Homo sapiens: one gene and its partner. The protein of the gene in region 1 purifies or fractionates together with the protein of each later gene. This does not show direct contact. Each region holds a gene or a part of one and is shown on either strand. Other genes may lie near its edges. The genes, in order: ANKS6 and TIMM9.

Region 1 (3,815 bases):
TGATCACGCTACTGCACTCCAGTCTGGCAACAAAGTGAGATACTGTTGGAAAGAAAAGAAAAGAAAAGAGAAGGGAAGGAAAAGGAAGGGGAGGGGAGGGGAGGGGGAGGGGAGAGGAGACAAAACCAACAGCTCTGCCCAAAAATCACTGACCCCATGGAGACTCCACTTCTTCCACCCTAAATCAGGACATCTCCATTGGGAAAGTCTCCTACAGACCAAGGTGTCTGAAATAAAATTTCGTCTTGGAATTCAAGACTCATCGAATAAGAAAACAAACTGTTTTCAGATGACACAGGAAAGTGATCTGATCACCTAAAAGAGGGCAAGGAAAGAACCTCTAACTGGGAGTCAGATCACTTAGCAGCTACAAGATGCCCACCCCAAAGACGAGGCCTCCAGGAGGATGACAGCCCATCCTGCTGGGATGATCACATAAGAAGGGGTTCATAAGCACCCTGTAAACACTGAAGCCTATTCAAAAGGAGAGGGGTAGGACACATCTCACCATCAATCATCACAAGACGACAATGGTATGAATAACCAATGTTTACTTCATACAGGAGCTACTTAAGGAGGTCACTATATCTCAATGTGAAAACTCCAATGAATCAGTCACTGTGTTCAACTGAAACCAACCTAGAGAACCTTATCTCTCTGCATAAAATGCTCCTGCTGCATGGTTTTTCAGGGCCATTGTGAAATTCTGTGATGGGGGAACAGGAAATCTGGACACAGAAGGGTGGGACTAAAATGAGCCTGTGCCGCTTTTTTTTTTTTTTTCCATGCCTCAATGTCGTCATAGTCCTGGGGTTTGTATGCAGCATCTCAGGACCAGAAGAGCCCATTGGGAACCTCCATCTCAGGCCAGAGCATCTGTCTGGCCTTGTCGCTGAGGGCGTGGGGCTGGCACTGACCCATGGTAGGTTGCCTGCATGAGGGCCGTCCAGCCATGCACGCTGTCCTGCTTGTCAACATCCGCGTGCCTCTCCACCAGCAGCTGCACCAGAGCCAGCTGCCCCGTAACAGCTGCTAGCATCAGTGGCGTCGCCCCGTCCCCATTGACCAAGTTCACGTGGCTGGGGTCTTCATCGGCAATCTCTTTGACCAGCTGGAAGTTTCCTGCAAACACAAGCAGGAGTCCGGGTGAACTGTGGGCCTGGTACCATAGGCTGATTTCTCCTGTGGTTCATGTAACAAACACTTGCTGGCCCTGCTCTGCCTCTGCAGTGGGCTGCTGGGCATCATAGGGGATACTAAGAGGGCGTCAGAGATAGCCCCGACTCTTAAATGCCTCAGTCTAGGCGAGACAGAGACAAACACACGAATGGGCAGAAGTGTTACCAAAAGACAGAAGTGTTGTTAGTGTCTTCAGAGAACGGATGAAGGAGACAGAAGAAGACAGAAGGAGAGTTCAGGTCTCGCTGCGGGGTGAGGATCGGGAAGGGCTTCCTGGAAGCAGGGTCTATATCAAGAGAGAAAATTTTAGGCTAAATGCCTCTTTGTCACAAAGAGACTGGAGTGGGTATGCAGAGAGGCATTTCAGATGCAGGAAGAGCTAGGGCATAGCTAGACAGTGTTTGGCTGGAGTGGGGCTGGAGGCCGTCTGGAGTCTATGTGTAGAGCTCTACAATAAATACTGGCCTCCAGGATCTGAACTTCCAAACACCAAACACCAAAATGCCTGTTTCTTTCTCAAATACCCTGGGTGGCCCTGCAAAGGACTACAAATATTAGGTTGGGAGAATGTAGCCCTATATTCTTAAATATCCAAAAAGATTTTCTAAAGCGCTTACCCATTTTCAATGCATGGAAAATATCAGGTCGCCTTTTCTCCTCATCTGGGTAAACAAAGATTTTTAAAGTTAACCACGGAAAGGTTTAATATAACAGAAAAGTCACAAGGGTGTAACAACACAGCCTGGCTTTAAAAAGCATCTAATTCTCAAAAGCAATCTAATTGGAGACCTACGTAATGGACAAATCCAGCAGCTCTTCTGGAAGGTTTATTACCCAAGAACATCTGAAAACACTTCAGAGACAGATCTTGCCAACAAAACACGAATGAGCAGCAGATCACGGCCCTGATCTCATGCAAATAAAGCAATCATTTTTAGGCAAAACAAACGTTGGCATATCCTTTCTTAGATATACTGAAAAGTCTTGGGGTCTTAGAAAATCCTGGATTCCCATGGACATTGTTTAAAAATTTTTTTTCTTCTAAAAACTAAATGTACAATCATAATTCCAAATCAGAGGACCCCTGAGATATCGAGCAGCTGAGCTCTAAGGAAGTTCACAGCCACAGCCAACAGAAGAGCCAATGCTCATATTTTCTTTCCCTCCCATGTAAGAAGCAATCAGAACATGCTCCCTCCTCCAAACCTGCAGACACAGCTGGCCAAAAGCCGCTGCCCAACTGGGCATCTTCATGCTGTACCCTGAAGCCCAGCTGCTAGGCTGGGGCCGGACCCCATGCCTACCTGCACAGCTGAGCCTTGCTGCAGCCGCCAGATGTTAGCCCCTCCCTCACATGCTCATCCCACACCTTCCTCCAAGCTTGGGCCAGCAGGTACCCCATTCCTGTCAGAGCAGGCATCCTCATGGCCAGTCTGCTTGCTGGGGGGCTGAAGGCAGGCCTTCTGCAGCCTTTAATTGATCCCAGGGGATGGAGCAGCTGCCAGAGGGCACTTGTGACTCTGGGCTGACTCTGGTCGAAATGAGCCCTCTTGAGTAACTGGGAGGAAGCTGCAGCCCAGGACAAGGAGCACAGAGTGTGGAGTCAGTGCACGTGAATTTCAGCGCACATTTTTAGAGTAAGCTGCCTCTTCATCACAAATGTGGGGATAGCATCCCTCTCACCTGGCTGTTGCAGGGATCAAATGATAATGTTAAGGCGCCATTCAAAGAGCAATTACTTTCTTTAGCAACCAGCAAGGTAAACCCCAGAATTCTTTTTTTGAGATGGAGTCTCGCTCTGTCACCCAGGCTGGAGTGCAGTGGCGTGATCTTGGCTCACTGCAACCTCTGCCTCCTGGGTTCAAGTGACTCTTGTGCCTCAGCCTCCCGAGTAGCTGGGATGACAGGCACACGCCACTACACCCAGCTAATTTTTGTATTTTTAGTAGAGACGGGGTTTTGCCATGTTGGCCAGGCTGGTCTCAAACTCCTGACCTCAAGTGATCTGCTCGCCTTGGCCTCCCAAACTGCTGAGATTGCAGGTGTGAGCCACCGCTCCAGGCCGGAACTCCAGAATTGTTTTTTTTTTTTTTTTGAGATGGAGTCTTGCTGTGTCTCCCAGGCTAGAGGGCAGTGGTGAGATCTAGGCTCACTGCAACCTCTGCCTCCCGGGTTCAAGCGATTCTCCTGCCTCTGCTTCCAGAACAGCTGGGATTACAGGCACCCACCACCGCATCTGGCTAATTTTTGTATTTTTAGTAGAGATGGGGTTTCACCATCTTGGCCAGGTTGGTCTCGAACTCCTGACCTCGTGATTCACCCACCTCCGCCTCCCAAAGTGCTGGGATTACAGGCGTGAGCCACCACACCTGGCCAGAATCCCAGAATTCTTCATGGAAAGTACGGACACTGCCATGGGACACAGTATATCAATTTTGCCTGTGAAATACTATCAAGAAACTATTCTGCACCTGACTTTTAAAAAAAATATGTCATGTTCTTTCAAGTATTCAAGAACCAACTTTGCTGTGGGGTGGGGTCTTCTCATGCCAAGACCTTTTCACAGAAAAGAGTGTCACCTGGTCTTAGTGTTGGCTGCTAAGCAACCATCTGACACAAGTTAATCACTGACAGCA
Region 2 (3,815 bases), on another chromosome or scaffold:
TCCAAAAAAAGAAAAGAAAGAGAGAAAAGAAAAGAAAAGAGAAAAGAAAGAAAAGTAGCTGGGCATGGTGGCATGTCCTATACCCCCAGCTACTTGGAGGTTGAGGCAGGATTGCCTGAGCCAAGGAGTTTAAGGCTGCAGTGAGCTATGATCATGCCATTGCATTCCAGCTCAGATAAAACAGCAAGACCCTGTTAAAAAAAAAAAAAAAAAAAAGGAAGTGGAGGTAAGGAAGGAAGAAAGGGGAGGGAGAGAGGGAAAGGAGCGTGGGAGGGAGGGAAAGGAGCGTGGGAGGGAGGGAGGGACTTAGGGAAGGAGGGAAGGGAGGGAGGGAGGGAGGGAGGAAGAAAGGAAGGAAGGAAGGTAGGAAGGAAGGAAGGTCTTAAATCAGTAATCCAAGCTCCTCCTACCTCAAGCACCTAAAAAAGAAGAGCAAAATGAACCCAATGAAGGAAATAAAGAGCAGAGATCAATTTAAATGAAAAGAGAAAAAAGAAAGAGCTAGTTCTTTGAAAAGATTAATAAAACTGACAAACCTACTAGCAAGAGAGAAGACACAAATTATACATCAGGAATGAAACAGGGTGTACATTACTACAGGTTTTGCAGACACCAAAAGGATACAGGAATATTACAAACAACTCTACATACATAAACCTGACAACTTCTTTATGAAGTTAGTATTATCCTGATATTAAAACCAGGCAAAGACAGTACAAAAAAGAAAACCATAAAAATATCCCTCATGAAAGATATAAAAAAGTCTATTACTATTAATATTAGCAAATATAATTCAGCAATATATAAAAAGAATTATACAACTTGACCAAGAAGGGTTTATTCCAGGGATGCAAGACTGGTTTAATATTTGAAAATTAATCCGTTTAAGTCCACATATTAATAGACTGAAGAAGAAAAACCAAATGATCATAAACATTGATGCAGAAAAAGTATCTGAAAAAATGCAATACCCATTCATAGCAAAATATCTCAGAAAAAAAGGAAGATCAATTTGATAAACAGCATGTACAAAAAAACCTACAGCCTACACTATACTTAATGGCAAAAGATAATACTTTCCCATAAGATTGTGAGCAAGGACAGATGTCCACTCTCACCACTCTTATCTAACATACTGCTGAAAGTTCTACCCAGTGCAGTGAAGCAAGAAAAGGAAACAGACATAAAGATTGTAAAAGAAAAAACAAAACTGTTCCTGTTTGCATGTAATATAATTATGAACATGCAAAATCGAAAGAATCTACAAATAAACTCCTAGAATTAATTAAGTTCAGCAGTGTCCAGTATACACAATAAGTATATTTAAAAAATCAATTGTATTTCTATATACCATCAATGAACACATGTATACTGAAAGTAAAAATACAATATCATTTACAATTACTCAAAGAAAAAAAAAGATTTAGGGGCAAATCTAACAAAACATGTACGGACTTGTATGTGGAAAACTACCAAATGCTGACAAAAGAAGGCAAAGACCTAAACACACAGAGAGACATACTGTGTGTTCAGAGATCAGAAGACTCAATATAGTAAGAATGCCAATTTTCTTAAGGCTGATATACGGGCTTATTGCAATTTCTATCAAGGTCCTAACAAGATTTCTTATAAATATACACAAATTTATATGGAAATTTATATAAAATTTATATAAAAAGCAAAGGGACCAGAATAGCTAAAACAAATTTGAAAAATGAAGAATAAAGTGAGAGGAATTGGTCTACCTGATTTCAAGACATAAAGAGCCTACAATAATCAATGCTGTGTGCCACTGGTGGAGGGACAGACAAATAGTCAGTGGAACATAACAAAGAATCTAATAACAGATTAACACCAAAAAACCCAACTGGCCAGGTGAGGTGGCTCACACCTGTAATCCCAGCACTTTGGGAGGCCAAGAAGGGAGAATTGCTTGAGCCCAGGAGTTCAAGAACAACCTGGGCAACACAGCGAGACCTTGTCTGTACAAATAATTAAGAAAATTAGCTGGGCATGGTGTCACATGCCTGTAGTCCCAGTTACCTGGGAGTCTGAGGCAGGAGAATCATTTGAGCCTGGGAGGTAGAGGCTGCAGTAAGCCATGGTTGCGCCACTACGCTCCAGTCTGGAAAATAGAGTGAGACCCCGTCACACACACACACACACACACACACACACACACACACACACACACACACACACAAACACATACACACACACACACACAAAAATACACTCCTGCCCAACTGATTTTTGGGAAAAAAAGATGTGAGAACTAAGTTTCTCACCTAATACAAAAATTAACTCAAAATGGATTGGGGGGCCAGGCATGGTGGCTCATGCCTGGAATTCTAGCACTTTGGGAGGCCAAGGTTGGCAGATGGCTTGAGGCCAGGAATTTGAGACCAGCCTGGGTAACATGACAAACCCCGTCTTTACCAAAAATACACACACAAAAAAAATTTTAGCTGGGCATGGTGGCACATACCTGTAGTCCCAGCTACTCAAGAGGCTGAGGTAGGAAGGATGGATTGCGCCCAGGAGGCAGAGGCTGCAGTGAGCCAAGATTGTGCCACTGCACTCCAGCCTGGGTGACAGACCCTCTCTCTAAAAAAAGGATCAGGAATTTAATGTAAAATATAAAACTACTAAAACTTTTATTTATTTTTAATAAACACAGGGTCTCACCATGTTGCCCAGGCTGTCTCAACTCCTGGACTTAAGCAGCCCTCCCATCTCCACCTCCCACAGGGCTGGGATTACAGGCGTAAGCCACCATGATTGGCCAACTACTAAAACTTTTAGAAAAATATTAGAAAATCTGGCTTTAGGGCTAGGCAAAGAGTTCTTATATTTGACATCAAAAACACTATAAGAGGAAAAATTAATAAATTAGACTTCATGAAAATTAAAAATGAAATTAAAAAATTAAAAACTTTTGCTTTATGAAAGAACATTGAGAGGATGAAAAGCTACAGACCAGGAGGAAATATTTGCAAACTACATAACTGACAAAGAACTAATAAGCAGAAGATATAAAGAACTCTCAAACCCCAGCAGTAAAAACACAAACAATCCAATTAGAAAACAAGCAAGAGCCGTAAAAAGGTATTTCAGCAAAAAGGAAATACATATGGCTAATAAGTACCTGAAAAGATGTTCAACATCATTAGCCATTAGGGAAATGCAAATTAAAACCAAAACAAGCTGCTGGGTGCGGTGGCTCACGCCTGTAATCCCAGCACTTTCGGAGGCTGAGGCGGGCAGATCACCTGAGGTCAGGAGTTTGAGACTAGCCTGGCCAACGTGGTGAAACCCCATCTCTACTAAAAATACAAAAGTTAGCCGGGCATGGTGGTGCATGCCTGTGGTCCCAGCTACTCGGGTGGCTGAGGCAAGAGAATTGCTTGAACCCAGGAGGTGGAGGTTGCAGTGAGCCGGGATCACGCCACTGCACTCCAACCTGGGTGACGAGAGCAAAAATCCATCTCAAAAAAAAAAAAAAAAAAAACAAGCTATATACCTATCAGAATGGCTAACATAAAAACAAAACAAAACAAAAAAACAAAAACAGTGGCAATACCAAATGCTAGTGAGGACATGGAAAAACTGAATCACTTACATATTCCTGTTGGGAATGTAAAGAGTTTGGCAGTTTCTAAAGAAGTTATACATTCATCTCCCATATAACCCTGCAATTGCATTCCTGGGCATCTGTCCTAGAGAAATGAAAATTTGTGTTCACAGGAAATCCTATATGTGAATGTTTGTAGAAACTCTATTCTTAATAATCAAAAACTGAAAACCCAAATGTT

What was found.
Region 2: the proteins of ANKS6 (region 1) and TIMM9 purify together in Homo sapiens (affinity purification with mass spectrometry; one large-scale study listed by BioGRID and IntAct). This does not show direct contact.

What each region holds. Positions count from the first base shown.
Region 1 is NC_000009.12:98,783,036-98,786,850, forward strand, and holds part of ANKS6 (ankyrin repeat and SAM domain-containing protein 6), read right to left. Parts: intron 1,842-3,815; coding exon 1,797-1,841; intron 1,123-1,796; coding exon 918-1,122; intron 1-917.
Region 2 is NC_000014.9:58,417,303-58,421,117, forward strand, and holds part of TIMM9 (mitochondrial import inner membrane translocase subunit Tim9), read right to left. Parts: intron 1-3,815. UniProt on the Homo sapiens protein: Mitochondrial intermembrane chaperone that participates in the import and insertion of multi-pass transmembrane proteins into the mitochondrial inner membrane.